7 linked regions of the Homo sapiens genome follow. The protein of the gene in region 1 interacts with the protein of each later gene in a pairwise test. Each region holds a gene or a part of one and is shown in the gene's direction. Other genes may lie near its edges.

What was found.
Region 2: the proteins of PAXIP1 (region 1) and INTS7 interact in a two-hybrid assay, tested with the Homo sapiens proteins (one large-scale study listed by BioGRID).
Region 3: the proteins of PAXIP1 (region 1) and PPP2R5C interact in a two-hybrid assay, tested with the Homo sapiens proteins (one large-scale study listed by BioGRID).
Region 4: the proteins of PAXIP1 (region 1) and CABYR interact in a two-hybrid assay, tested with the Homo sapiens proteins (one large-scale study listed by BioGRID).
Region 5: the proteins of PAXIP1 (region 1) and PLCD1 interact in a two-hybrid assay, tested with the Homo sapiens proteins (one large-scale study listed by BioGRID).
Region 6: the proteins of PAXIP1 (region 1) and WDR48 interact in a two-hybrid assay, tested with the Homo sapiens proteins (one large-scale study listed by BioGRID).
Region 7: the proteins of PAXIP1 (region 1) and PGGHG interact in a two-hybrid assay, tested with the Homo sapiens proteins (one large-scale study listed by BioGRID).

Annotation. Positions count from the first base shown.
Region 1 is NC_000007.14:154,992,942-154,997,273, reverse strand, and holds part of PAXIP1 (PAX-interacting protein 1), read left to right. Parts: intron 1-3,502; exon of another isoform or gene 3,503-3,504; coding exon 3,505-3,548; intron 3,549-4,332.
Region 2 is NC_000001.11:212,003,964-212,008,295, reverse strand, and holds part of INTS7 (integrator complex subunit 7), read left to right. Parts: intron 1-846; coding exon 847-1,046; intron 1,047-1,534; coding exon 1,535-1,657; intron 1,658-4,332. UniProt on the Homo sapiens protein: Component of the integrator complex, a multiprotein complex that terminates RNA polymerase II (Pol II) transcription in the promoter-proximal region of genes.
Region 3 is NC_000014.9:101,908,013-101,912,344, forward strand, and holds part of PPP2R5C (serine/threonine-protein phosphatase 2A 56 kDa regulatory subunit gamma isoform), read left to right. Parts: intron 1-1,576; coding exon 1,577-1,678; intron 1,679-4,332.
Region 4 is NC_000018.10:24,145,308-24,149,639, forward strand, and holds part of CABYR (calcium-binding tyrosine phosphorylation-regulated protein), read left to right. Parts: intron 1-4,332. UniProt on the Homo sapiens protein: May function as a regulator of both motility- and head-associated functions such as capacitation and the acrosome reaction. Isoform 1 binds calcium in vitro. Isoform 2 and isoform 6 probably bind calcium. Isoform 3 and isoform 5 do not bind calcium in vitro.
Region 5 is NC_000003.12:38,009,529-38,013,183, reverse strand, and holds part of PLCD1 (1-phosphatidylinositol 4,5-bisphosphate phosphodiesterase delta-1), read left to right. Parts: intron 1-1,510; coding exon 1,511-1,640; intron 1,641-1,738; coding exon 1,739-1,970; intron 1,971-2,621; coding exon 2,622-2,823; intron 2,824-2,908; coding exon 2,909-3,053; exon of another isoform or gene 3,054-3,130; coding exon 3,131-3,280; intron 3,281-3,372; coding exon 3,373-3,531; intron 3,532-3,655. UniProt on the Homo sapiens protein: The production of the second messenger molecules diacylglycerol (DAG) and inositol 1,4,5-trisphosphate (IP3) is mediated by activated phosphatidylinositol-specific phospholipase C enzymes. Essential for trophoblast and placental development.
Region 6 is NC_000003.12:39,093,160-39,097,491, forward strand, and holds the end of WDR48 (WD repeat-containing protein 48), read left to right. Parts: intron 1-714; coding exon 715-907; coding exon of another isoform or gene 908-1,093; exon of another isoform or gene 1,094-1,488; coding exon 1,489-1,584; 3' UTR 1,585-3,505; downstream 3,506-4,332. UniProt on the Homo sapiens protein: Regulator of deubiquitinating complexes, which acts as a strong activator of USP1, USP12 and USP46. Enhances the USP1-mediated deubiquitination of FANCD2; USP1 being almost inactive by itself.
Region 7 is NC_000011.10:293,852-296,924, forward strand, and holds the end of PGGHG (protein-glucosylgalactosylhydroxylysine glucosidase), read left to right. Parts: coding exon 1-74; intron 75-247; coding exon 248-345; intron 346-415; coding exon 416-627; intron 628-704; coding exon 705-898; 3' UTR 899-2,256; downstream 2,257-3,073. UniProt on the Homo sapiens protein: Catalyzes the hydrolysis of glucose from the disaccharide unit linked to hydroxylysine residues of collagen and collagen-like proteins.

The DNA of each region.
Region 1 (4,332 bases):
TGAGACACCATCTCTTAAACAAAAAGAAAAAGGGAAAAAAATAGAAAGATTGCCATTAAGTCAAATTGCGGGGCCAGAGAAGCCACCTGGCTGCTGGGAAGTGGTGACCTCCCTGGTACCCAGGGTCGGAAACTGCCTTGGATGAGGTCCTGAGCTGGGGCACCCTCTTCTTTGGAACATGTTTTTGTCTCTGGCTTGCTTCCTTGTACTGCTTTAGGGACAGTATCTCTGTCTCTTCCTTCTCCTTCCTACAAACTTTCTTTCTCTCAGACAATAGCCTGGAGCTATTGTCTCAGTAAAGCGGCTTTGCATATCTTATGCAGATGTTATGTGAAAGGGTGATCTTTCTAACACATCCTTGGGGCCTAGGTGATTGTTGCCAGGCCAACTACCAGAAGTAGTTCTTAAACCTGCCTGACCCCAAACCACCTTTTTGTAATAAGTACTTTGTAGCACTCCCCTTATTATCCAGAAATGAATCGATACGTAAGCCAACCTTTAAAATATGTATATATAAATTGCCCAAACTGAAATGTGAAGGCGAAATAAAAGGCAAGTAAATAATAAATATATATTTCAATGTGTAAACACTTGGGCATGGCTGCTGCTATATGTAGAGTCACTGCCGGTAGCTGCTGCAATTACAGATTGATATCATACCCCACAAGTGGGGTCGCCGCTGTGAGGTGACATTTCAGAATGGTGATCAATTCCTGAGCTAAACAAAGCAGTCTTCCTTCATTTTACACAGTATTCATATTCCTGGGAAAGTCAGTATGTAAGGCTAAGTAGAAATACCCATTACTTATACAATTAGCAGTTAGCATCTAGGATTATCACCATTTTGCCAAGGTAGTTTACTGTATTCAAACCCAACTTTTTCCCCCTCTGGCTATAGTATTTTAAAATGAGTGACAGACATATTTCATCTGTACCCAGTAGCATTCCAGCCTGCTTGTAATTTTTGACAGCACCTGTATTGTCCAGGGACTATTGTGTTACATTACAAGGTGGTAGAGTACTTCGGAGCTGACTCAACAGTTTGCCTTCACTCTAAGATATTTCAAGTAGATCCTGATATTCTTAGTTTGAACCTTATGGGCCTGTCTTATTTTGGATCCTGCTGCTAATAGTTGAGTCTGAATTCATATGACTGAAGGCTGAGACCTGGTTCCCTAGAGGCATATCCCTTGGCCTTTACCTTGATAGGAAGTTTGACAATGCATTTTAAAAATAAGGCATCTTTATACACAGTGACAGTTTATCTATCATTTACATATTTGAATCTTATAAATGTTTAAAACTTGCTTCTTTGGGCACCAAAACTTTTAAAATTATTTTTTAAATTGAGATATTTTTCTCAGTGGCCTTTGGGCATCATTGGAAATGTTAATTTTGCTGACTTGTAGTGGGCTTATTTTATTTAATTTTTTTTCAGACAGAATCTCCCAGGCTGGAGTGCAATGGTGTGATCTCGACTCACTGCACCCTCTGCCTCAGGGTTCAAGCGATTCTCCTCTCTCAGCCTCCCTAGTAGCTGGGACTACAGGCGTGTGCCACCACGCCCGGCTAACTTTTGTGTTTTTAGTAGAGACGGGGTTTCACCATGTTGGCCAGGCTGGTCTCGAACCTGTCACCTCAAGTGATCCGCCCGCCTTGGCCTCCCAAAGTGCTGAGATTACAGGCATGAGCCATCGCGATCAGCCAGCTTATTTTTATATATTGTTCTTTGCCTTTAGGATAAATAGTTCCTTATCACTTTGCTTTTGTAGTTCTCCATTTCTGCTTTGTACTGTGGCCTACATCCTAATTTTGCATTATTTTATCTAAACTTATCTGAAGTAGGGCCTCAGTGATTCTACTGTGCTTGGATGGGACTTTATGATAGCCAGCAGTCTTTAAACTGGGATACCCTACCCAAGCTCCCTGGGGGGAGATATTCAGCGTGTATGCTGTGTGGATGGTTGTAAGGTGATAGATAACATTTCCAGACTGGCCCTTCCTAAAGCTGCCTGAGAACACACCTGTGGTCACAGTGGCCCCTCCCACTTTACACAGGAAGAATCAGACCTTCACCCATCCTAATCTTGTAGTGCATTGCCCCAGGCTCTGAAAATTCTCGTGGACAGCAGACAAAAGGACAATTAGAAAGACTGGTTTTAGGGACTGTTCCCTTAGTGCTCAGTCATGGCATCATGAGGAGAGAGGGGTTTCTGGGTGTTGCTGTTGAAAGGAGAGCTTGGTCTACATGAAGGTGTTCTGAATTCAGAAGTGTCAAGGCCAATACCGATTCCTGATGCTGGCCCATTTTTTTAAATTTAACTGGAATTTTTCTAGGACTATCAAAAAATGTGAAGATATGTTGGATAAGGCACATAGATCGAAAAATTAAGTGCCTTCTTTCAGATTTCAGATAACTAATCCAGTAACTTAGTTAAAACCTTTGGTAAATGTCAAATCATAATGAAGTAATTATCCCAGGCACAGCTGCCAATCTTTATTTTATTTTATAAAATGTTTAATATTCCTCTTCTCACAGAAAATATACTTATTTAGAGTTATGCTGAAAAATTTTAGATGTCATCTAAAAAATGATAAGGGGGGCATTTCATTGTCTGAAATTTATTTAAGGTGTACATGACAAAAATAGCTTGAAGATCATTAGCTTGGAATATGACTTGCAGGAGAGCAAAGACTGCGTTTCTCGTTTTCATTGTTACATCCCCAGCGCCTTGCACCATCTCTGCATAAAATAGATTCTCAATAAATATTTGATGAATGAATTGATGGGTGGGTAGTGAGTATATATGTCTGTTTCAGTTGGCTGAAGTTTCTGGAAGTCAGCTGCCTTCCAGAATGTAGTAATGGGGGCATTACTACATTTTGATAGTAATTTTCTGAAGTAGAGCTATCAGGAGAATGATTTGTATAATTATAAAAATTAAACATAGAAACAAGATAATTTTTCAAAAATATAAATTACCCAGAAAGGTAGTAATTAATCTGTTTTATAATTAATCTCAGTTTTTAGAATTTATAAAAATATTTTCAGGCTTACAAACATTGTATCTGCTTGACTTCACTAAAACAAACAAACACCTCATGAATTTAGACTTGACTGAATTTGGGATTCAAGAAGGGAGCGTATGAGAGGCTGACTATGCCCTGGATGAGGTGTCGGCGGTGGTGGGGCAGGATGGGTGGCAGTTCCCCTGTCCTAAATGTGGGGGTCAGCAGTAATAAGTGTGTAAACCTGGAACTTAAATGTTTATACATAATTTTAAAAAAATATGGTAGTGCTTCATTCTGTAATTGGATTTTTCATCTTGGGTATTAGTAACTAATCTTTGACTATAATATTTCTATTTGAATATTCATACTTGTAATCTGGATGTTTTAAAATAGGTTGTAACAGAGACTTTTAATTTCTAAGAACAACACTAGTAAAATAATATGCCACTTGTAAATTGAGAATACTTTTTGATTTAATCTTTTCTTTTTCAGCCTTCTTGGGTGATTCTGTCCGTTCAGTGTGGAACTCTTCTGCCGTATCCTTTTTTTTGAGTGGGGGAGGAGGGAAAGGGTAACTCTGGGTTTAAGACTGAAAGAAATGATAGTTAATGGAGTGAAAAGTGGATTCATTCGTTAGGACAGATTGTTTTGTCTACATCTTATATTCCTACTATTTTCCATCCTGTTTCAAATTTTATGTACCTGATCCTTGTTATTACTCATGTTAAAAGGGGGCTCAGCTGTGACAAGTAACTCTAGGCCGGGAACTGGAGGCAGGAGCTCCGGTTCTCTTCAGCTTTTGTGGTGCTAGCTAGATGAGGGATATTTCTAAAATTCTAAGTCTATGTGAATCAAATCATGAATTGTTTGAAGAGTAAGTTGGGGAAGAGAACATGAGAATAAAATTTATAACATGCATTGTTAATCCTTTTAATTGCATTGGGTAGAACGATTATTAATTCAGTGCACCTGTGCTGTGGGTTGAGTACTGAAAATAGAGGGGTGAAGAAGACCATTTCTGCCCTCAGGGAGCTTCCTTGCTTGCATTGTTCGTTCATGGAGCATTCATAGATGTGCCCTTGCCCTGGCACTGTGTCAGGAGTCAGAAATGAGGCGTTCTACAGGCCTCCTGTTTACTCTTCTAGGCCTGGTGGCTCCCTTTTCATCCTAAAAGGATAATTCTTCATGGGACTGTTACTTCAAGTGTAACTTGCTTGTGGAAATCATTTCTTTTGCAAGTACCTGATACCATACAGTTGCTAAAATTTTAGACCTGGCAAGAGATTATGTCATGTGCTCTATTTTATTTTGCAGCTATGC
Region 2 (4,332 bases), on another chromosome or scaffold:
TAACATGAGCATGATGTGACCCTGCAGAGAGGAAAGCAGGGAATACTCTGATCTCATTCTTTTCCCTCTGGCAAACCCAAGTAGAGGCCATCTAGCAAGGGAGTTTATTGACGTAGGCAACTGTTGGACGTTGAAATGCTGTCTTACGTTCATACCCACAATTATTTCACCATGGAAAAGCCAGCAATACGCAGAGTATAATTAGCTTGTGGCATGTATGTGGTACATTACGACTGAGAAATTTGTGTTCACCATGACCACAAAGCCATGCCATAGAGAAAAGATTTGTTGGTTTCGCTCCACTGTTGACAGGAAAACGTGGATTAGGGTTAGTCTTCATGGATCCAGTCGTGTATGCAATAAAGAAAGGCATTTACTACACAAAGTTCAGAGGACTTCGAAACCATTCTACACACAGTTTATTCACATCCTGATTATGATTTAGTTGTTGAAGGAAATAATTAAAATCATAAGTATAATCAGACTGTAGCCATCAAGTGTGTGTGTTTGTGTATATATATGTATATGTGTATGTATAATTTTTTTACTATGACAATGAGAGGAAATAGGCAGCAAATATGACTTTGCTTTCTACTGTGCTTTTTAAAGGCAGTTTTTATTATCAGCATGTAGTTTTATAATCATTGAAAAGTTAATGTCAAGATAAATACTTAGGAAAAAATATTGAATTTATCAATTGGTTCTAGTATAATCTTTAATGTTATAAATATATTAGTATACTGTGTTTTTCAAGTGCAATTTTGCTAAATGAGTCACAGCTTTTAAATCTGGAATATTATTAAGGATGGTGATCACAAATACCTTGAGAATTATTTTTGTGTCTAGGTTTAGCGACACCAGTAGACTTGAAGCTAAAATTGATACCCATTCTACAGCACATGCACCATGATGCAATCTTGGCTTCCAGTGCTCGTCAGCTTTTACAACAGCTGGTCACATCCTATCCGTCCACCAAAATGGTGATTGTGTCTTTGCACACTTTCACTCTGCTTGCAGCGTCATCTTTGGTTGATACACCTAAGCAGGTAATTTCAATTTTCTTTAAACTGCCTATCTTTGGTAAACTTACATATTAAATATATGATTAGAAATAAGAAAGTGGCCCACAAGTCTTGAGGACATTAAGGTTCTTTTCTCTAATAAAGGTCAGATTAATTTGCTTTTGCTTGCTTTTTTATTCTCTCTGTTCACAGTACTGATTGTTGGGAGCCCTTGAGGAAAATGAGATGTTATGGAGTACATGGCTGGGTGTGAAGTTGGCCGTATAAAAAAAAAAAAAGAAAGGATTGAGTATCTGTAAAATGCCAGGGCCTGTGCTAAAACTTTAAAGTTAAATGGTAGTATTTTACAAACATGGAGAAAGAGGCCCAAATGTGGGCACATAGCTAGTGAGTGACAGGGCTCTGATTTGAAGTGAGTCCTGTCCCTTTATAAGTTTCACTAAACTACACTGCATTTCTAATGATCATTTCAGTTACAGTATTGTTTATGGAGTGACTTATTTCCTTTATAGATTCAGCTTCTGTTGCAGTATTTGAAGAATGATCCCAGGAAGGCAGTAAAGAGACTTGCTATTCAAGATCTGAAATTACTTGCTAATAAAACACCACATACTTGGAGTAGGGAGAATATTCAGGTATGTAGAACTTGTAACATTTTATATAGAAAAAATAATATAACATTATAATATAGTAAAATGTTTTGCATTTTTATATTGTCTTTGTCATCTTCTAAGTGGTTGAATATGAAAAACTTCTAAAAGCATTGTTGATGTTTGTGGCAGTTATTTTATAAGTGGCACAATAAATACATAAAACTTCTATACTTCAATGTTTGTTTTAGTCAGTGAAACTTGCCACTCAGTTGCTTGTTCATTCTCCCATAGTGGCACTAAGGCTAATTGAGAAGCCCAATTACATTGGTTTGGTTTTTTTATTCTTGTATTTTTCAGTCAATTTGGGGAGAAAAATTTAGGGGCTGAATGTTATCTGTAATGGAGGTAGGGCTGGATGGGCAACTTGGGAAATATATTTCTCTCTTCCTGGAGAGCTGAAGACATTCCTAAGTCTTCTTTTGTAAACAGAAGAGCAGATCTCACTCTTTAGACTTTTAATGTGCATCTTTGACACCATCTCTTACCATCTGTTAGGTTAAATTAATATTTTATGTTTATTTTTTTCTCAAAATAGAACCCTGTTTGTTTACCCATTACCGATAGAAATAACACCATTTTGCAAATAATGCTATTTAAAATGGAACGGTAGTTTTTATCTCTCAGCTTCATCATGACTCCAGTGGATTAAAAATCTTTGAATTTCAGATTATTAAAACTAAACTGCTGTGTTTGTTTTTCTGTTTGTTTGTTTGTTGTTTTCTAAACATCTTTTAATTTACTATATTATGATTTGATAGTCACAGATATCCCAAGATAAGGGCAGTTGTTAAATCTGCATTTAATAGATAAGCAGTTAGGGTTCAGAGAGACTTAATATGCTTAAGAGAGCATCTTAAGAGAAGTAAATTAAGAATTTAATTAAGAGAGCTTCTGTCCTCTGATCCCTAGTCTTATTGCTTTTTCTACTAAATAATGCTATCTTTCCAAGAAGAGAATGTGCCCAGCCACTTTAGTCATTTTAGAGAATTTGTACAAAGAACCAAACCCAGTTATTTAGAAAGATGAGTGAGAAGCACAGTATTATTCCTTCTCATTTTTTTCTTATTGTGAGATAGATCATACATACAGAAAAGTATGTAAAATATATAAATAGTTTAAATACCTTTAAGTGAGAAAAGTATGTAAAATGTATAAATATTTTAAATACTTTTAAGTGAAAACCCATGCAACTACCATCCAGCTAGAAATAGAACATTACAGGATCACAGAACCCTGCCTCCTTCCCTTGCGTGGTCCTTCCTGGTTGAAACTTTACACCTTCCAAAAGCAAACCACCATTTTGACTTTCATGATAATAATTTCTTTGCTCTTCTTTTACCTTCTTCACATGTCTTCCTAAAGAATACTGTTTAGCTTTGTTTTTGTTTCTTTTGCTCAGCATTACACTGGTGAGACTCATCCATGTCTTTCCCCTTTAATTGTAATGTACTATCCCATTGTATGAATGTATCACAGTTTATTTGCTCTCGATGGGTTATTTCCGCATGGGCCTATTGCAAACAGTGCAGAACATTCTTCTGTTTGTCTCCCAGTTCACACACGCAAATTTCTTTAGAGTGTATACCTGGGAATGAAATTTCTGACTTACAGAAAATGCGTATCTTCAGTTTTAACAGATGATGTCAAACTGTTTTCCAAAGTCAATGAACCAGTTTACATTCCTGCTGTGTATGAGGGCGTCCATTAATCACATCCGTACCAACACATAGAATTATCAGACTTACGTTTTTTACCAGTTTAGAAGTTGTACTTTTTATGTGTAGCTCCTTGATTATTAAAGAAATTGAACACCTTTTTAATATGTTTATTGACCATTTGGATTTTCTCTTATGACATGGCTATTCAGGTCTCTTGCCTATTTTTCTGTTGATTCATAGTTATTTTTTATATATTTGGAATACTCATACTTTGTTAGTCCTTGACAATTCTATATAAATTTCAGAATCAGCTTGTCAAATTTAACAGTTTGATTGGGATTACACTGAATATAAAGATTAGTTTGTAAGAAATTGGTAACTTTATAATATTGTCTTCCAGTGCATGAACATGTTATATCTTTCCACTTATTTTAGGTCCCTTAAATGTGTCTCTTGCCCTAGTCTATTTCGTCTGATATTAATATCACTACTTTAGTTTTCTTTTACATATGTTGACATGATAGGTTGTTTACCATCTTTTTAGTTTCAATCTTTATATATCTTTATGTTTCACATGTTTCTTATAAACAGCATTTAATTGGAGGTTTTTTGGGTTTTTTTGAGACAGAATTTTGCTCTGTCACCCAGGCTGGAGTGCAGTGGTGCAGTCTTGGCTTACTGCAACCTCTGCCTCCAGGGTTCAAGCCATCCTCCCACCTCAACTTCCCAAGCAGCTGGGACTACAGGCATGTGCCACCACACCCAGCTAATTTTTGTATTTTTAGTAGAGAATCGTCATCATGTTGCCCAGGCTGGTCCTGAACTCTTGACCTCAAGCAATCCACCTGCCTCAGCCTCCGAAAGTGCTGAGATTACAGGTGTGAGCCACCGTGCCTGGACTAATTGGATTATTTTTAATCCAGCCTGGCAGTCTTTGTCATTTTCAGATGGAGCATTTGATTCTTCTGATTTACTATGATTTGTCACACATTTGAGTTT
Region 3 (4,332 bases), on another chromosome or scaffold:
TTTGGTTCACATTCCTGCCTTCCTCCTGAGCAGCTGTCTGAACCCGGGGAAGTTAGCTCTCACCAGGTCTTTCTTAGCCACAGTTTCTCTTTGGAAAAACTGAGAAAGTAAAGTGCTTTGCCTTGCAACAATCTTCACTTGGTTGTGAGGATTAAGATAAAGTTAATATGCGTAAAGTACCTGGCTTATGATAGGCACCAAGTAAGCATTTGCTGTCACTTAGTGGTTGTAGGGCCAGCAGCCATGCTGATAGCAGTGGAGGCAGCAGCCAAGACCCTCATGGCAATAGCGTGGTGGTTGTAGTTGTTAATACAGCACATCCACCCTCAACAACCTGTTCTTTGTAGCATTGATTTATTTTATTTATTTATTTATTTTTGAGATGGAGTCTTGCTCTGTCACCCAGACTGGAGTGCAGTGGCACCATCCTGGCTCACTGCAGCCTCCACCTCCCAGGTTCAAGTGATTCTCCCACCTCAGCCTCCCAAGTAGCTGGGACTACAGACATGAGCCACCACTCCTGGCTAATTTTTGCATTTGTAGTAGAGATGGGGTTTCACCATGTTGGCCAGGCTGGTCTTGAACTCCTGACCTGAAGTGACCCACCCGCCTCAGCCTCCCACGGTGCCGGGACTACAGGTGTGAGCCACCGCGCCTGGCTTGCATTGATTTTTTTTTTTTTAATCGCAACAATGACAACAAAGCCCCTGGAGTGTCGCCATGTTTCTTGTGTGTAATTTAGTTTAGTATGTAAGTCAGCACAATTCATAACTGACTTCCAATCCCCGCCCATTGCAAAGAAAAAAATGTTCTTTTAAGTGTTTTCTAAGTACAACTTGGGTTTTATTACAAAGTGGATTAAGAAGGAATTATGATTTGAGGGTTACGTTTTTTGGGATTTATTTGTTTTTAGCTACTGGCACCTGTTGCTCACAGTCCTGCGGGTCGAGCAGGTCCTGCTGCGCAGGCTTTCGCTGGTGTCTGCTGGGGGATCGGGGCTCTTACAGGGCTGCAGTCCCATGGCAGCTGGGACTAGAGTCACCCAGAGGCTCAGCTGGAACAATTTGGCCTCTTTCCCTCTCCATGCGTGTCAGAGCCTGAGAGCTAAGCATTGATTAAGCTGTTTTATGCTCATTTTATTTTCTCTTTCAAAGCTCTGTGTTGCCATTATTAAAATTAATTTTTCTGTCCTCAGGGAATAAGATGAAAAGAAACTGACATTTATAGGAAATCAAGTATTGCCATTATTGTCCTCTTTATAATTTTGTCTTAACTATATTTGTTCAAGTTTCAATGTTTTTAATTCAGTTTCTGAGCAAGGTCGTTTTTGGCTACTGTCAGCTGGAGACAGTGAGTGGAGTGGCCTCTGTGGCTATGTGAGAGCCACTGTGAAGAAAGTCTCGGGATGTGTGGCTGTCAGAAAACAAGTAACGCGGAATGAGCAGGCCTTGCATTTTAGACCTTAGGGATCCTGTGCGATGTGGGACTGTTGGAATATGGAGCAGCCTGAGAGTGGAGAGGCGAGGGCTCAGCAGGAATGCGTGCTCCCAGGCTCACCGTGCGGTTTTCTTTATAGGACAATACATGGCTTGATATACAACGCCCTGAAGCTCTTCATGGAGATGAACCAAAAGCTATTTGATGACTGTACACAACAGTTCAAAGCAGAGAAACTAAAGTGAGTTGTTCCTTTCACAAGTTACTGTTTCCAGGATTTTTTTCTTAATCCTAAGTAAACCTCTTCCACTGTTTTGTCCTAAAACGGTATTCTTCACTCGAAAGCAAAACCAAGCCTTTCATACTTGGAAAGCAAATTAAAACTGTGTTATAATAACGTATTTTGAAAGAACAGGTGTTTAAAGGTAGCTATTCTCCCCCCTTGTATTGCCAGATTAATCATCTTTGCAAAAAGTGCTTATGTAAGCAAGAATTTAACATTCAGAATTTTTTCTTTTCTTGGGCTATAATGGGCTTAAAGGCTATAATGTGTAGTCCATTTTCATGTTTATAAGGCAGGGATTTGAATTATATCCTATAAGGTTTATCCCAGAGAGCAAGAATCTTCATTTCAATGTAGCTTTATTCTGATTTAATGAACTCAGCGATGTGGGTGTTCTCTGGAATCTAGTCTGTCCTTTGCAAAATCAGGGTCCTGCCCTCGTGCCTTTGAGCCCACATGTGTCCAGGGATGATCTAAGTGACAAAGTACTTCGTCCCTAGGCTGTGCAAGTAATAATGTGATTAAATAGTTGTTGGAGGTCACTTCTTCCAAGTTGAGTATGGACTATTGGCAGATTTTATTTTTTGCTTGTCACTTAAAACTGGCTAAGGTAGATAAGCTTTGCACGAATGTAATTCAAAATACACTGTATACATATGTGTGTATCTATGTGTGTGTGTGTGTGTGTATATATATGAAACAACTGCCATTTAGTCATTCCTTAGACAAATATGTGAATATTTACCTTATACACCAGGCCCTGTTTTAGATTCTGGCAATATAGCAATGAATAAAACCCACAAAAATCCTTGCCCCTGGGCCGGGTGCGGTGGCTCACGCCTGTAATCCCAGCACTTTGGGAGGCCAAGGCGGGTGGATCACAAGGTCAGGAGATTGAGACCATGCTGGCTAACACGGTGAAACCCCATCTCTACTAAAAAATACCAAAAAAGGGCCAGGCGTGGTGGCTCATGCCTGTAATCCCAGCGCTTTGGGAGGCCGATGCAGGCAGATCACGAGGTCAGGAGATCGAGACCATCCTGGCTAACACAATGAAACCCCGTCTCTACTAAAAATACAAAAAAAAAGGCCGGGCATGGTGGCTCATGCCTGTAATCCCAGCACTTTGGGAGGCCAAAGCAGGCAGATCACCTGAGGTCAGGAGTTCGAGACAAGCCTGGCGAACACAGTGAAACCCCGTCTCTACTGAAAATACAAAAAATTAGCCGGGCGTGGTGGCAGGCGCCTGTGGTCCCAGCTACTCAGAGTCTGAGGCAGGAGAATGGTGTGAACCTGGGAGGCGGAGCTTGCAGTGAGCTGAGCTCACACCACTGCACTCCAGCCTGGGAGACAGAGAGAGACTCCGTCTCAAAAAAAAAAAAAATACAAAAAAAAATCAGCCGGGTGTGGTGGCGGGTGCCTGTAGTCCCAGCTACTCGGGCTGAGGCAGGAGGATGGCGTGAACCTGGAGGCGGAGCTTGCAGTGAGCCAAGATCACGCCACTGCACTCCAGCCTGGGCGACAGAGCGAGACTCCGTCTCAAAAAAAAAATCCTTGCCCTTTTGGGGTTTATATTCTGGGTAGTGTGGGGAAATAAAAGAACACAAAATACACCTAAGTGAACTATAGAGCATGAGAGATGACAAGTCAGTCAGGAAAGGGCCGGGGAGACAGACCAGCCATTCCTCTAGAGCTGCCAGCTGCATGGTCTGTTCTCATCTCAGCTCTCAGTGCAGTTCGCAGGTAGGAAGCATGCAAGCAGCAGGGCCTTCTGATGGCAGATCCTCCTCTCGTGGAATCCCACAGCTTTCCCAACAGGACCTTAAAGGTTGTGTAGTACATTTTCTGGGTTGAAAAACTTGGATCCTGGCCGGGCGCAGTGGCTCACACCTGTAATCCCAGCACTTTGGGAGGTTATGGCTGGTGGATCATTTGAGGTCAGGAGTTCGAGACCAGCCTGGCCAATATTGTGAAACCCCATCTCTACTAAAAGTACGAAAATTAGCCGGGCGGTAGTAGCACGCACCTGTAATCCCAGCTACTCGGGAGGTTGAGGCAGGAGAATTGCTTGAGCTCGGGAGGTGGAGGTTGCAGTGAGCCAAGATCCTGCTACTGCACTCCAGTCTGGGCGACAGAGTGAGGCCCTGTCTCAAAAAAAAAAAAAAACTTGGATCTGAGTTAAGCGATTGAAAGTCATGTGACTCGCAGTGGAGTCAGTCAACAACCCAGGTCTCCTGGCTCTTAAGACGTTTCCTTTTTAATATTATAGGAATGGGAATGCTGGCTCCTTTTACAGTACTGGTCCCTTTACACTGTACTGCATACTCGTTTTTTCAGTGGATATATGAGCTTCTTGTCAAAATTATGTGGGTCCCATGAAGAAACATCTAACCAGGGGAAGGGGGAAGGATTGAGACATAAGACGTACTTATATAAGATTTCTTTTAAGAATTCCAATCTTGGACATGTTAAATTTTTTTATATTTTCTCATGTTTAAATCTCAGTTCGTTTTTCATGCTGTGCTCAGCACGTAAGTGTGGGGAAATGGAGCAGGGGGGCTGCGGGAGGAGCCGCTGGCTGGGCTCAACATGCCTGTGCCTTTTCCCCTTCA
Region 4 (4,332 bases), on another chromosome or scaffold:
ATAAACAGACATAAAAGCTGTATAAATTATATAAAACGAAGTCCAGCACCTAGATTCTTGGGAGAAAGGACTTCTAGAAATTCAGCCCATATTCACAGAGGCTTTCTTCCTGAGGACACTTTCAAATTCTTGTGCAGGGAAATATAGCCCAAGCAGTGAGTGAAATCTAGGGAGAGGTGACAGAGGAGCAGAATTTGAGTCTTCAGTGTGGCTGGGATGTGAGTGACAGTACCAGAAAGGAGGCATTTTCAGAGAAGGACCTCCAAAAGTTTGCACAAAAATTTCCCTTGGGTTTTTGTCCAACTCCTAAGCTCCTCATGTGTGGAGTAAAGCTTGAGGAGGTTTAGCAGAAAAGAGCTATTGGGAGACTGAAAGCTAAGTCGAGAGATCAGAACCGTTTAGTGTTGGGAGAGGCTTTGCAGGTTGGGCCCAGCCAAAAATAAGAGATTTTTGTGAAACCGTGGCAATTCAGTTGAGACCTCAGAAAGGTCATAAACTATGAATAAAGTGTACTTTGAGGTATACGTAGTGCACTATCATACACTAGGAAGAAAGGTCATACACTCTGAATGTGCTAGGAGTAAGAACAAAGCTGAAGTATGCCCACTTCAACAGAATTTAGAATCAAATCTCAAGAGGATCAAATTGATTTGCCATTAGAACAAAATCAGTACCATTTAGAAGAAAATTAACAATCAGAGCCTTTACAACGTGTCATTTACAGTTTCCAGCATACAGTTAAAAACTACTAGACATTCAAAGAAGCAGGAAGAAGTGACTAATAAAGGCTAAAACAACACACTCACTAGAAACAGACCCATAGAATATCCTGATACTGGAATTACTACATGAGGTGGATAGAAAATAACCATGATTGATATTTTGAAAAGATGGAAAATAGATGAAAAGATGCAGAACTTCAACAGAGTTAGAAACTACAAAATAAGAAACATTTATTCCATAACTGCAAACTATAAAATTATATGGCTTTATTAGAAGACAGAATTAGGAAACTAAAAAACGAGCCAACAGACAACAACCAAATTAAGGCAAAGAGAAAAATAGAAAACAATGTAAGAGATGTATATGGAACATTGTCAAAAGGTCTGTGTCCACCTGTAGTCTCAGCTACTCAGGAGGCTGAGGCACGAGAACCGCTTGAACCTGGGAGGCAGAGGTTTCAGTGACCCAAGATTGCACCACTGCACTAAAGCCTAGGTGACAGAGCAAGACTGTCTAAAAAAAAAAAAGGTCTATGTCATTGCAGTCACAGGAAAAGAGTGGAAAAGTAGTAGTATTTGAAATGGCTGAGAATTTTCCCACTCTGAAAGACAAGTTTACAGGTTCAAGAAGTCTAATGAACCCATGGCAGGATAAATACAAAGAAAATGACACACAGGTACATCACAGCTAAACTGCTGAAAAAGACAAAATCTTGAGAGCAGGCGGAGGGGTAAAAGGGCACTTTACTTTTCAGGGGAACAATAATAAGACAAATAGGTGATTTCTTAATAGAAACCATAGAAGCCAAAAGACAATGGAATGACATAAAGTGACCTAGAATGCCAGCCTAGAATTAATATATACCCAGGGAATATATCCTTTAAAAAACGAATGCAAAATAAAGACATTCTCAGGCAGACAAAAACTGAGAAGAATGCATTGCCTACTCTACAAGAAATGCTTTTAAAGAAGTTTATAAGCAGGGGCATGGTGGTTCATGCCTGCAATCCAAGTGCTTTGGGAGGCTGAGGTGGGAGGATCACTTGAGGCCACGAGTTTGAGACCAGCCTCAGCAACACAGTGAGACCTTGTCTCTACAGAACATTTTTTAAAAATTAGCTGGGCATGGTGGCACACACCTGTAGTCGTGGATATTCAGGAGGCTGAAGCTGTGATCACACCACTGCACTTCAGCCTAGGTGACAGTGCAAAACCATGTCTCAAAAAAAAAAAAAAAAAAAAGCCTATAGGCAAGTGAGGAATACAAGGGAACTTCCTAAATCTAGGAATGGGTACACACACAAAAACTTACAGATGATCCAATTGACCCATTGTACCCAATGGTGAATATTGAATGCCTTCCCCTCAAGATTGGGACCAGGACAAAGATCTCCAATGTTACGATTTCTATTTAGCTTTGTACTGTAGGTTCTAATCAGTGCCATAAGGCAAACAAATTTTTTTAAAAAAGGAAAGGCATATTAAGAAATAAAACTATTCACAGATGACATGACTATGATGTAGGAAATCGAAAATAATCCACTTCTTTTTAATCAGCTTTATTCTATAGAGGAGAGGGTATATGGGACACAGCCCAGATGTTTATGGGCAGAAGGTTTAAAAAAGTACAGATACATTATCTAGTAGCTGTAAATCTTAAGATAATGAATTCAACAAGTACCCAGAGAGAAAATGGGTATTATGGATGTCATAGAATAAAAAACAGATATGGTATCTAAAGAGCAGCATTTAACACAATCCCCCTCTGTCATGTTTCTTTACGACTTCTAATTTATGCCTCATATCAGTTAGGAAAGCTTTCAGCTGCAAGTAACAGCAAATCAATTAAGAGTAACTTTAAGAAAACAACATATCTGAAAAGGTGTTCATTCTGCTCCTAATATAATTTAATAATAAGTATCACATATCTAGGCACTCTGCTGTGTCATTCTTAGGATGTTTTACATGTCCCCTCATGCTACTGCTCCAGGTGTTATGCCTGTGTTTACATCAGGAAGGAGGAGAAAGTGGTGGCAGTGGTGACATTTGTTCCTTTGATTAAGAAAGGAACACTTTTGCAAGTTTTCCAGCAGATTTCCGCTTCTGTCCCACAGGCCAAAGGAGGCTGATACAATTTATGGTAAGGGAGATCAGAATTGTCCCATGCATTGCAGGACATCTAGCATCCCTGATCCTGCCTCCTAAAATACTAATGCCTCCCAGGTATTGAAATAAATAAAAATGTCCCCTCTACATCTACGAATACTCTCAGTGGAAGGGGGATACTACTACCCCTTGAGAACCAGTGTGCCATTAGTGGTTTATCACCTGGGGCTGGGTACATTGCTGCCACTAATCTAGCTAAGATTATCTTAGCGAAGAATAAGGGAGGGAATGTCTGCTATTCCACCCACCCTGCTTTAATTCTTTGCCCTTAAGTGAAGTTGGGAGAGATGAGGTTTGGTAAAAATGTGGGGAGGGAGGATGTGTTGGGAGTGATGGTGTGTCTGGAATTGGTGGGTTCTTGGTCTCACTGACTTTAAGAATGAAGCCGCGGACCCTCACGGTGAGTTACAGCTCCTAAGGTGGCACGTCTGGAGTTTGCTCCTTCTGACGTTCGGATGTGTTCGGAGTTTCTTCCTTCTGGTGGGTTCGTGGTCTCGCTGGCTCAGGAGTGAAGCTGCAGACCTTCATGGTGAGTGTTACAGCTCTTAAGGCAGCACGTCTGGAGTTGTTTGTTCCTCCCGGTGGGCTCGTGGTCTTGCTGGCTTCAGGAGTGAAGCTGCAGACCTTCGAGGTGAGTGTTACAGCTCATAAAAGCAGTGTGGACCCAAAGAGTGAGCAGTGGCAAAATTTATTGCAAAGAGGAAAAACAAAGCTTCCACAGTGTGGAAGGGGACTTGAGCGGGTTGCCACTGCTGGCTCGAACAGCCTGCTTTTATTGTCTTATCTGGCCCCACCCACATCCTGCTGATTGGTAGAGCGGAGTAGTCTGTTTTGACAGGGTGCTGATTGGTGCGTTTACAATCCCTGAGCTAGACATAAAGGTTCTCCATGTCCCCACCAGATTAGATAGATACAGAGTGTGGACACAAAGGTTCTCCAAGGCCCCACCAGAGTAGCTAGATACAGAGTGTCGATTGGTGCATTCACAAACCCTGAGCTAGACACAGGGTGCTGATTGGTGCGTTTACAAACCTTGAGCTAGATACAGAGTGCCGATTGGTGTATTTACAATCCCTGAGCTAGACATAAAGGTTCTCTACGGCCCCACCAGAGTATCTAGATACAGAGTGTTGATTGGTGCATTCACAGACCCTGAGCTAGACACAGGGTGCTGATTGGTGTTTACAAACCTTGAGCTAGATAGAGAGTGCCGATTGGTGTACTTACAATCCCTGGGCTAGACATAAAGGTTCTCCACGTCCCCACCAGACTCAGGAGTCCAGCTGGCTTCACCCAGTGGATCCTGCACTGGGGACTGCAGGTGGAGCTGCCTGCCAGTCCTGGTGCCGTGCGCCTGCACTCCTCAGCCCTTGGGTGGTCGATGGGACTGGGTGCTGTGGAGCAGGGGGCGGTGCTCATCGGGGAGGCTCGGGCCGCACAGGA
Region 5 (3,655 bases), on another chromosome or scaffold:
GCTCGGCGGCTCACACCTCTAGTCCTAGCACTTTGGGAGGCTGAGGCAGGTGGATCGCTTGAGCTTAGGAGTTCGAGACTAGTCTGGGCAACGTGGCAAAACCCCATCTCTCCAAAAAATACAAAAATTAGCCAGGCATAGTGACATGCACCTGTAGTTCCAGCTACTTAGCAGACTGAGGTGGGAAGATTGTTTGAGGCTGCAGTGGGCCATAATCATGCCACTGCACTCAAGCCTGGGCAACAGAGCGAGACCCTGTCTCAAAAAACCAAATAAATAAATAAATTGCAGAAAAAAATATTAGGAGGAAAATGCAAATATCAGAAGCTTCTGGAGGAGGTAGGTAGATCTTTAAAACTTCATTATAGGCCGGGTGCCGTGGCTCACACGTGTAATCCCCGCACTTTGGGAGGCCAAGGCGGGTGGATCACTTGAGGTGAGGAGTTCAAGACCAGCATAGCCAACATGCTGAAACCCCGTCTCAACTAAAAATACAAAAATTAGCTGGGCATGGTAGCATACGCCTGTAATCCCAGCTCCTCAGGAGGCTAGGGCAGGAGAATTGCTTGAATCCAGAGGGCAGAGGTTGCAGTGAGCCGAGATCGCGCCAGTGTACTCTAGCCTGGGCAACAGAGCAAGACTCCGTCTCCAAAAAAAAAAAAAAAAACTTCATTCTAACATATATATGTTTTCCAAATTGTATATATATGGGTATAGATGTGGAAAAGAATAATTATGACAGAAAGCCAGGTGAAAAAAGTCAAGTTTAGAATGGTCCAGCCAAGCACGAGATTCGTGTGCTGAAGGCTATTCAGCAGGTGGAATATCCATTTCTTTAGTGTTGGATATTTATTATTATATATTATATGTTGAAAACCAGTCCAGATGGCTCATATCTGTAATCCCAGCACTTTGGGAGGTCAAAGCAGGAGGATTGCTTGGGCCTAGGAGTTTGAGACTAGCCTGGGCAACATAGGGAGACCCTGTCTCTACCCAAAAAAAAAAAAAAAAGCCAGGCGTGGTGGTGCGGTGCACACCTGTAGTGGGAGGATCACTTGAGCCTGAGAGGTCTAGGCTGCAATGAGCTGTGATTGTGCCACTGCACTCTAATCTGGGCGACAGAGTGAGATCTTGTCAAAAAAAAAAAAAAAAGAAAAGGAAAACCAGAAGGATATACTTTGGAATGTTGATAGTATTTATCCCTAGGTGATAGACTACGGGAGATTTGTTTGATTGTTTACTTTTCTGCATTTTCTAAATTGTCTACAGTGGGCCCTTTTGTAGTAAGAAAAGAAATGTTTTAAAAATTTTGAAAGGTTTGAAAACCAGCAAATAGAAAAAGACCCCTTAACATTTTCCTCTGAAGAGGCCACTGAAACATGGATGTGTAGTAAGTCAGGCCTGCAGGGAGCTGTGGCTATAGGTGGCTTCAGCTGGAGCCATCCATGGCTCTGGCTGGGACCTTGGTAGGTTCCAGGGTTCCTGGGTTCTTTCCTTACTTCTTGCCCAGCTGGATTCACTCCTGCTTGCGAAAAGCTGACAAAAACAAGGACAACAAGATGAGCTTCAAGGAGCTGCAGAACTTCCTGAAGGAGCTCAACATCCAGGTGGACGACAGCTATGCCCGGAAGATCTTCAGGGTGAGGCAGGAAGTGGGGGCTGGGGCTGCCTGTCCATGGGGCCCTTGACCCCGGCCCAAGGCCTGCTCTGAGCCCACTCGGCTGTCCTGGCTCTGCAGGAGTGTGACCACTCCCAGACAGACTCCCTGGAGGACGAGGAGATTGAGGCCTTCTACAAGATGCTGACCCAGCGGGTGGAGATCGACCGCACCTTCGCCGAGGCCGCGGGCTCAGGGGAGACTCTGTCGGTGGATCAGTTAGTGACGTTCCTGCAGCACCAGCAGCGGGAGGAGGCGGCAGGGCCTGCGCTGGCCCTCTCCCTCATTGAGCGCTACGAGCCCAGCGAGACTGGTGAGAGCCTGACCAGGGCCTGCTACCTGCAGTCGCAGGGCCGCACTGGGCTGGGAGACCCCTGGGGAGACTGCAGCCAGAAAGAAGGGAACCGGAGGGAAGGGGCTGCCTCAGCCAGCCCCGGGGCCCTGCTCCACACTTTCTGGTCCTATGAAAGCCGGCAGATGAGAGACAGGGCTCTGGCATCCCTACCCTTCTCTGGTCCTGTTTCCCTCTTGGCACCTCCTTCAGGGGGCTTTGAGGACCCCTTCTTCAAGAAACAAGAGAGATGGCTGAAAAGCAGATGCTACTCCTGCTTCTTTTTTTTTTACTCATTCTTGGCCCAGCTTTGAGATGTGATAGAGCAGAGAAGATGGGTCCCTGCCCTGGAGGGGGCTCCAGTCTGGAGGTACAGAGAACGGGGAGATGACACCCTGTCCTCAGGGGTCTTAGAGTGTGCAGACAGGGGAGGAGGAGGAGACAGGGCCCCACTCTGGAGTAGCCACAGTCTGGTCGAGAGCCTCAGACTTATCCTAATTCCAAGAGCTCTGGAAGACTGGCTCAGGACAGGCAGGCAAGCGGGTTCAGAGGGCTCCTCTGTCCAGATGGGTGGGCAGCCAGGAGCGCCTGCTGGAGGCTGGCTCTGACGGGCAGTGGCCTCCTCCCTCCCAGCCAAGGCGCAGCGGCAGATGACCAAGGACGGCTTCCTCATGTACTTACTGTCGGCTGACGGCAGCGCCTTCAGCCTGGCACACCGCCGTGTCTACCAGGACATGGGCCAGCCACTTAGCCACTACCTGGTGTCCTCTTCACACAACACCTACCTGCTGGAGGACCAGCTAGCCGGGCCCAGCAGCACTGAAGCCTACATCCGGTGCTGCTCAGGGAGCCTTGGGTCGGGAGTCTGGGTGGGACCCGGGACAGGACCTGGAGGGTCCTAGCCACCACCCTCCCCGCAGGGCACTGTGCAAAGGCTGCCGATGCCTGGAGCTTGACTGCTGGGACGGGCCCAACCAGGAACCAATCATCTACCACGGCTATACTTTCACTTCCAAGATCCTCTTCTGCGATGTGCTCAGGGCCATCCGGGACTATGCCTTCAAGGTGGGAGTGCCCCTGGCAGGTGAGGAGTGGGATGCTAGGGGTGGCCCACCACTCCTAATGTGCCCTTGGGCCTCCAGGCGTCCCCCTACCCTGTCATCCTATCCCTGGAGAACCACTGCACACTGGAGCAGCAGCGCGTGATGGCGCGGCACCTGCATGCCATCCTGGGCCCCATGCTGTTGAACCGACCACTGGATGGGGTCACCAACAGCCTGCCCTCCCCTGAGGTGTGTGGTGGGGATGGGGGATCCCTGGGGGAGGGTGGGGAGCCTAGCCGGGGCGCTAGGTGTGTCTTGACCAGTTGCCCCTCCCCACCTAGCAACTGAAGGGGAAGATCCTGCTGAAGGGGAAGAAGCTCGGGGGGCTCCTGCCCCCTGGAGGGGAGGGTGGCCCTGAGGCCACTGTGGTGTCAGACGAAGACGAGGCTGCTGAGATGGAGGATGAGGCAGTGAGGAGCCGTGTGCAGCACAAGCCCAAGGTTTGAGGGGGAGCTGTGGGGTGGGGCAGCCCGGGCCTTCCCCATCCCCTCACCCGTGGGAGGTCTGCCTTGTCTCAGTTCTCTGTGGCTGCCACTCAGACCCTCTGCCCCGCTCTCTCTGTCT
Region 6 (4,332 bases), on another chromosome or scaffold:
GACTCAGGCATTGTCTGCTCACAGGTGCTAGCTGAAGGCATGGCAGTGGGGAGGAGAGCCCAGGGAAAATTGAGCACTAAGAGTGTCGGACCCTGGTAAGCACTGGGAGCTGCCTGCCTTTCCAGAATTATTTAGTTTGCCCAGGTTCTGGGAAAGTATTCAAGGGAATAAAACCCAGAAGGCTACTATGTATGTATATGTAAATGTTTTTGTTTGTTTTTCTGAGATGGAGTCTCACTCTGTCGCCCAGGCTAGAGTGCAGTGGCGTATCTTGGCTCACTGCAGCCTCTGCATCCTGAGTAGCTGGAATTACAGGCGTGCACCACCATGCCCAGCTAATTTTTTGTATTTTAGTAGAGACGGGATTTCACCATGTTGGTTAGCCAGGCTGGTCTTGAACTCCTGATCTGAAGTGATCCACCTGCCTTGGCCTCCCAAAGTGCTGAGATTATAGGCGTGAGCCACCACACCTGGCCTGTATATGTCAAGTTTTAAGAACACATATTAATCTCATTTAGTTGTACATAAACTGTGTCTTAGAAGGACACTGTAGAAAATCTTTCCGCAGCTCTAAAAATGGATTAAGGTAATGACTAAAAACATTTATTGGTTTATTTTTCATCTTTAAAATGTTTGCATCAAAGAAAAATAATATGGAATAAATAATATCTAGTGATTTCCCTGATGTCACAATATGCCATTGCTTTTTTACAGAGATAGACTCTCTGCTAGTGACATGCTCCAAGTCCGAAAAGTTATGGAACATGTTTATGAAAAAATTATCAACTTGGATAATGAGTCTCAAACCACTAGCTCTTCTAATAATGAAAAACCAGGAGAACAGGAAAAAGAAGAAGATATTGCTGTGTTGGCAGAGGAGAAAATTGAACTTTTGTGCCAGGACCAGGTAAGTGGACTTGAGGACTACAGCCCCAATTTTTCCAGTGCTGGTGCTCATAAAGAGTTACATGCCTTTGGGTGGGGGGCTTCTACTTTTAGAGGGGCTCTAAGGAGCCCTGGGCCTCTCCTACCTAAAGCCCACCCTAAAGCTCCTCTTTACTGCTGGGGAGATTTTCAGAGAAGGGATACATAGACAAATGTGGATGTGCTGGTAGCTTTTTTTTCTGACAAGAAAAAAGACACATGGTCTTCTTGATTTGCAAAAAGCATGTGCCATGTTTATGATTTAGAGTGAAGGTGTGCGGAGAAATGGCAGAACTGTTTTTTAAATCAAGATGCACTCAAAACGTATCCTCAGAGGAATGGCTGAAAGATGGCCTGGTGTTTCTGGCATAGTCACAAAAGATGTACATCTCACTAAGCTCAATTTCATTCCCGCATGCATGGAAGCCGTGACAGCAAGAATTGGATACCAGGCATAGGGGAGGAGTGAGCAAGCTGGATCACCTGATGAGAGTCCCTGAGTTAATGATAAGGTTTTAGATATTAGAGACTTTGAAATTTTTAAATTTAATTTTGGCTATTCAGGTTTTGGATCCAAATATGGACCTTCGAACAGTGAAACACTTCATATGGAAGAGCGGTGGAGACCTCACCCTCCATTACCGTCAGAAGTCCACGTGAAGGCTGGGCTAATGCTCCTGGATATTCATTTACGACCTTCCTCTATGGCCCCAAGAGTAGTCCTAGGAAGCCCACTGATCCCCAACGGGAGCAAGACTTCTAACGGCTGATTGGTATGGACCGAGATTATCTTTCAATTGAAGTGACTAATCGAGATGTAATATAGAAACCAGTCTCCATGTGTAGATTAAGCTGTCCCCAGGGAAGCAGAGTGCAAGAGCAGAAGAGCCCCAAGCAGACTATGTCTTTCAAGATGTACAGAAGACTGACAACAGGCCAGTGCAGACTTTGCTTCCTCCTTTTGTTTCAAAGGACCTTATCTACCCATTAACACTTGTTAGAGACACCTCAGTCGGGCCACAACTGTCTCTGTTTCAACTTTAAGCCCACACACTCTGTAGCTTTTCTAAAACAGTACATTCCATTCATGCAGTAGATATGAAGGCTTTTTCCAAGTTTGTCATATAAAGTAATCAAATTGTTTTCACCGTTTAAGACAGTTATTTTTAATGGGAATTTGCTGTTGCACAATTTGAGAACCAGCCCATTTCATAATAAAAGATTAATGTTGGGCTTGTTGTTAATATTGCATCTCAGATGTGTTCTTGTAGGAAGATCTGTTGAAATTCCAGGTGCTGGATCATAGCACTTGGACTGTTGGGCCGGAGTTTGTGCAGCCCATGCCTAGCGATGCTGCACCTCCCATGATGTCCTGGCTTTGTGGCAACCCCAGGGAGGTGCAGCAGTTTCACTCCTTCCTCCACTGTGTCCAGTTTTATTTACACAAAGCGAGCTGAGACCACAGGTTCTTGCTCTGGATGAGCAGCATGACACCATCAAAATTTAAGACCATGATGAAATTTCAGTTTCATTCAAATGTTACCTAAAATTTATGGTGTCAGAATAAAGGGAGATCATAGTGAGTTAATTTGATATTCATATCCTGGAAGTATACATATTTGTTTTTCCAAAGTTTTATATGCAGGTTTTTGTTGTACCTGTATCCAGATCTTCTTTTCACTGTTCTAACAATCTAACACTTTCATAGAATCATTTGGATCTTGTATAGAGTGTAACTTATTGGGGATAAACACTTCAACTTTTGGCAGAAAATACTTTGGATTCTCCCCAAGGTCATTTGTATTCAGAGTAAATCAGTGGTCCACCCCCATAAAACTGTAAGACAAGCCTCCTGTATGAAGCCAGAAGCACAAGTGCCTTCAGAGGGCAGTTGATTCCAGTCCAGTTGCCTCCCTAGCTTGTGTGTGGCCTGCCTCCACCATAGCAGGGACTAGGGAGGGAGGCAGGGAACGTTTTTTCTTTTCTACATCTTCACAGGTTCGGCTGGGGGCAGCTGATAGGCCTAAGGCCATACCTTACTATTTAAGATACTCTGATCGCACAACTGCAGAGACAGGGTTCCCTCACTGCTAGTCAGCTTCTTTTGGAAACTGGACAGGCCATTGCCACCTGCACTTTGAAGAAGTGAGCAAAGACGTGGCCACATTTCTAATAAGTTGAAATGGTCTTTCTCCCTTCCTCAGAGAGCAACCAGCTTCTTTTTTTTTAAAAGTCCTTTCTATCTGTTGGATACAACAGTGTGCTTTTGGTGCACATTTTTTAGCAATAGTTGTGAATTAATGGCAAAGAAAAAAAAAATTATTTACCAGCCCTCAGTTGTGTTTGCCCGAGGGGCCTTTGAGCAAAGAAATGGGTTTTGCTGGGTCATTTTGCCCTGTGTGCTAAGCCTTGGGTGGCTGCATTCCCCTCCTGTCATAGATCTGACCCCCAGCATGATTGTATTTCTTTCCCCTCCAGTCAAACCGTAATACAGTTTCCAGAAAATTCGACAGTCTGCAATGCCAAAAGGGTAAAAATCTGTATTTCACAGTTGTATAGAATAAAGGCTTTAGTTAAAATATTTCAAAGTGTAGTACACATTTATTTTCATTTGTTATTTTCTTTCATAGCAGATTACAGAGAAAGAAAGAAACCTCTGGTTTCATGTTCTCCCTGGAAATATTAGCATTGATACCCATTTTATCCTCCAACTTATGGGGGAAGGGAAAGTAAAAGTGAGGGAGGGAAGAGCCAGAACCTTTGGGTGAGGGCAACTTTGGGTCAGACTGCCAGGCTACAGAGTTAAGGGAAGCTGGCCCCAGAACAGTCCTGTGGCGATTCTGTTCTACTTCCTGCATTCCAGCAGACTTGACACTGGGCTCCCAGACGATCCAGGACACAATGCCTCACTGTTATGCACACGTATCAGCTGCTCTGGTAGGCTTGACAAGGGTTTGCTTTAAATGAAGGGTTTGCTAATTTGGGACCCTCCCTCCATATAGTTGGCCTGTGCCCCCCAGAGCAGACATTCCTTGTCCTGCATACCTGACACAGCTTGTGAGTTCCCTGCATGTACACCAGCATTACAAATGATCCTGTAAAGGTGAGACTTTCAACTAGGCACAAGCTAGAAGACGAGGCCAGAGCAGCTTTCATAGTAATTAGCAGTGTGGGAACTGAGGGTCCAGTCAACACAGCAGAGGACTTCAGGTGATGAGGGGCCGTCCCCAGGTGGAGTGCAGGGCCTAACCTAGCCTTAACCTCCAAAGGCACCTGGGGTGGGGAGAACAGCTTCCTCCCCTACAACAGGAAAGAACAAAAGGGTCTTTACCTACTCTTAATCTAATCCCCTAATTCCCCCTTGGGGTTGGGAACCGTGCGTGGATAGACCTAGTCAGGTAGACTGGC
Region 7 (3,073 bases), on another chromosome or scaffold:
TGGAGCTGAAGGACGCAGTGCGGGCCCGGGGCCTCCTGGACAGGAGCTTTGCCAACATGGCTGAACCCTTCAAGGTCAGCCTGGCCACACCTGCCTCCCACTGGGCCCCTTGTGGTGGGAGTGGAGCCCAGCCTCAGAGCAGGCACAGCAGGGTGCACCCCTGGAGCTTCCTGCCGGATCTTGGGACAGCAGCCCAGAGAGGACGGTGACCTGGGGGTCCTGGTGTCAGCTGCCCTTGCCCCTGCAGGTGTGGACGGAGAATGCAGACGGGTCAGGCGCTGTGAACTTCCTGACAGGCATGGGGGGCTTCCTGCAGGCGGTGGTCTTCGGGTGCACGGGGTTCAGGTAAGTGCAGAGGCTGGCAGAGGGCAGCCCATGCCCCCACCTGCCACCTCACAAGCCTCTCCTCCCACAGGGTCACCCGAGCGGGTGTGACCTTTGACCCTGTGTGTCTGTCGGGGATCTCCAGAGTGAGCGTCTCCGGCATCTTCTACCAGGGGAACAAGCTCAACTTCTCTTTTTCCGAGGACTCCGTGACCGTGGAGGTCACAGCTCGAGCAGGGCCCTGGGCTCCTCACCTGGAGGCTGAGCTGTGGCCATCCCAGTCCCGGCTCTCCCTGTTGCCAGGTAGAACAGCCCCCAACAGCCCAGGTGCCTGCGACCCCAGGCTGCCCCTCACCCCCAGGCTGCCTCTCTCCCTGCAGGACACAAGGTCTCCTTTCCCCGCTCGGCTGGCCGGATACAAATGTCACCCCCGAAGCTGCCTGGAAGTTCCAGCTCCGAGTTCCCTGGGAGGACTTTTTCAGATGTTAGGGACCCGCTCCAGAGCCCCCTCTGGGTCACCCTGGGTTCCTCCAGCCCCACCGAGTCACTCACTGTGGACCCTGCCTCTGAATAATCAGGAACGGTGGCTTCAGAGACGTCTCTTGGGCCTTCCCTCTGGCCACGTCTGCACCCACCCCTCCTGGGCACCCTCCTAGCCTGCCATCCCTCACCTGCAGCCAGGCTCTCAGGGAAGGTCCATGCTGCTTGGCCTGAGTTCAAGGCTTTCTGCCTGTAGCCTGGACTCCCGTGGACCCCCGTGGGCAGGTGGCTTCCCCGTGGCATCTCCACACCGCCTCTGCCTGCCCCTGTGGACTGATGCTATCGCGCACCGTCCCACGACCCCACCCCGAGCTCCTGAAGCCGGGGTCTGAGCCTGCATCACCTCTGGCCTCTCATCCCCCACTCTCCTGAGAGCAGTGGTCACAGCGGCCGGCCGCTCTGCTGAGAAGGCAGAGAGGCAGGCTCAGGCCTCAGCGTGGACAGCAGGGATAAGGGGCACGAAGGACGGGGACTCGGCCCCTTCAGAATTCCTCAGGACTCTCAGGTGCAGCTTTGCCAAAAAGGAACTTTTCATGTCATGCAGTTGAGGGGACTTAGTCTCAATCCCAGGCTCCTCTTGACTCTGGGCAGCTTTAATCAGGTTGGGCAGCCTCTGCTACAGCGTGGGGTGGGATGGCTCTCTTCCCTCAGCCACGCCGCTTGTGAGGACAGAGGTGGGGGAGTGGGAAGTGGGAAGTCACCAGAGAACAGGAGAGGGATTTGAGGGCGAGACCCCAGCGCTCTCCACGGACCAGCCAGAGGGACTGGAGCCAGGTGTGCATGGGTTCAAGGCCCTGGCCCTGCCCAGCCTTTGTCTTGGGAGCTCAGCCCCAGGGTTCGGTCGTCAGCAGTTTCCCAAGAACAAGATGTGATGGCATCTGCTGCTGAAACCCTGATGAGGACCAGGCCCCCTGCACCGCTGTCAGCCTGAGGAATTAAAGCTTTGGTGCTGGGGAGAGCATTATTCCTCTGAGGAGCCGCTGTGCTTCCTTCTGAAGTGAGGGCCGTGCCCCGGGTCCCATTTCTCCTTTCACTTGAGTCGGGAAGCACAGCAACTTTAAGGCTCGCGCCCAGCAACATGGCTCCCCTCGCATCTGCATCTCCCTCCTGCTCTGGTGTTGCCGCTGCACCCTGTCCTCGGAGGACAGCAGAGGTTTGGACGGAGACTCAGGGAGGGAGGGAAGGAGGCAAGGACGCCTGTGGAAACATCTTTCAGGCAGCTCTAGGGTCTGGGGGCCAGGATGCCTGGGTCTCCCAAGGCCTGTCTGCTGTCTCTGCCACCCTCAGCGGCTGCCAGAAGCAGCGTGTGGGGGAGGCATGTGCTGCAGCACACCTGCGGCCGAGACCAGCACTCAGAGGTCGGCTCCCCTGACAGGAACCGTGTAGGGTGCAGAAGGCTGAGACCTGTGGACACTGCGTGTTTTATGGCAGCTTGCTTGCTGGGGCTCATGGCCACAGTGGAGAGGGGCCGTGGGTCAGGGCAGCCCAGTGTGCAGTCCAGTGCCGGGCAGGAGTCTTGCAGGGGCTCATGACCACAGTGGAGAGGGGCTGTGGGTCAGGGGCAGCCTGGCGTGCAGTCCAGTGCCGGGCAGGAGTCTCACAGGGGCTCGTGGCCACAGTGGAGAGGGGCTGTGGGTCAGGGGGCAGCCCGGCATGCAGTCCAGTGCCGGGCAGGAGTCTCGCAGAATGCAGCCTGACGCCTCCACGTGGCTCCCCCGGCCCCTACAGGCTCCCTCAGCTGCAGAGCTGGGTCCCATCCGACGCTGTCGCTGGGCAGCGAGAGGCAGAGGCAGGTTCCCCGAGGGAAGCATGGGCCCCTTCTCCCGGCCACGGTTGCCCCAGCAGGAGTTCATCTTTGCAGCCCCAGAGCCAGGGTGATGTGGGCACAGGTGTCAAGTCAGGGTGGTCGGTAGCCTTGCGCCCGCAGGAGAGATATGGCCTGAAGCCTGCTGCACGTGCGTGCCACACGCGTGTGGGGCCACCTCTGCACATCCTGAGGTGACCCTTTTGGGGGGGTCGTGATGGTCAGTGCACGTGTGCCGGCAGGGCTGGTCAGGGTTCATCGCCTGCCCAGGAGCCTGAGCCTGAGGCAGGGAGGTGCTGGTGACCGTTCCCCCAAGGTGGCTCACCCACAGCACCGGGAATGGACCAGGTCGTCCCTGCCCCTCAGTAAGCCTGGGGACTGGCAGACCGTCTCTTTTCTGGGGAC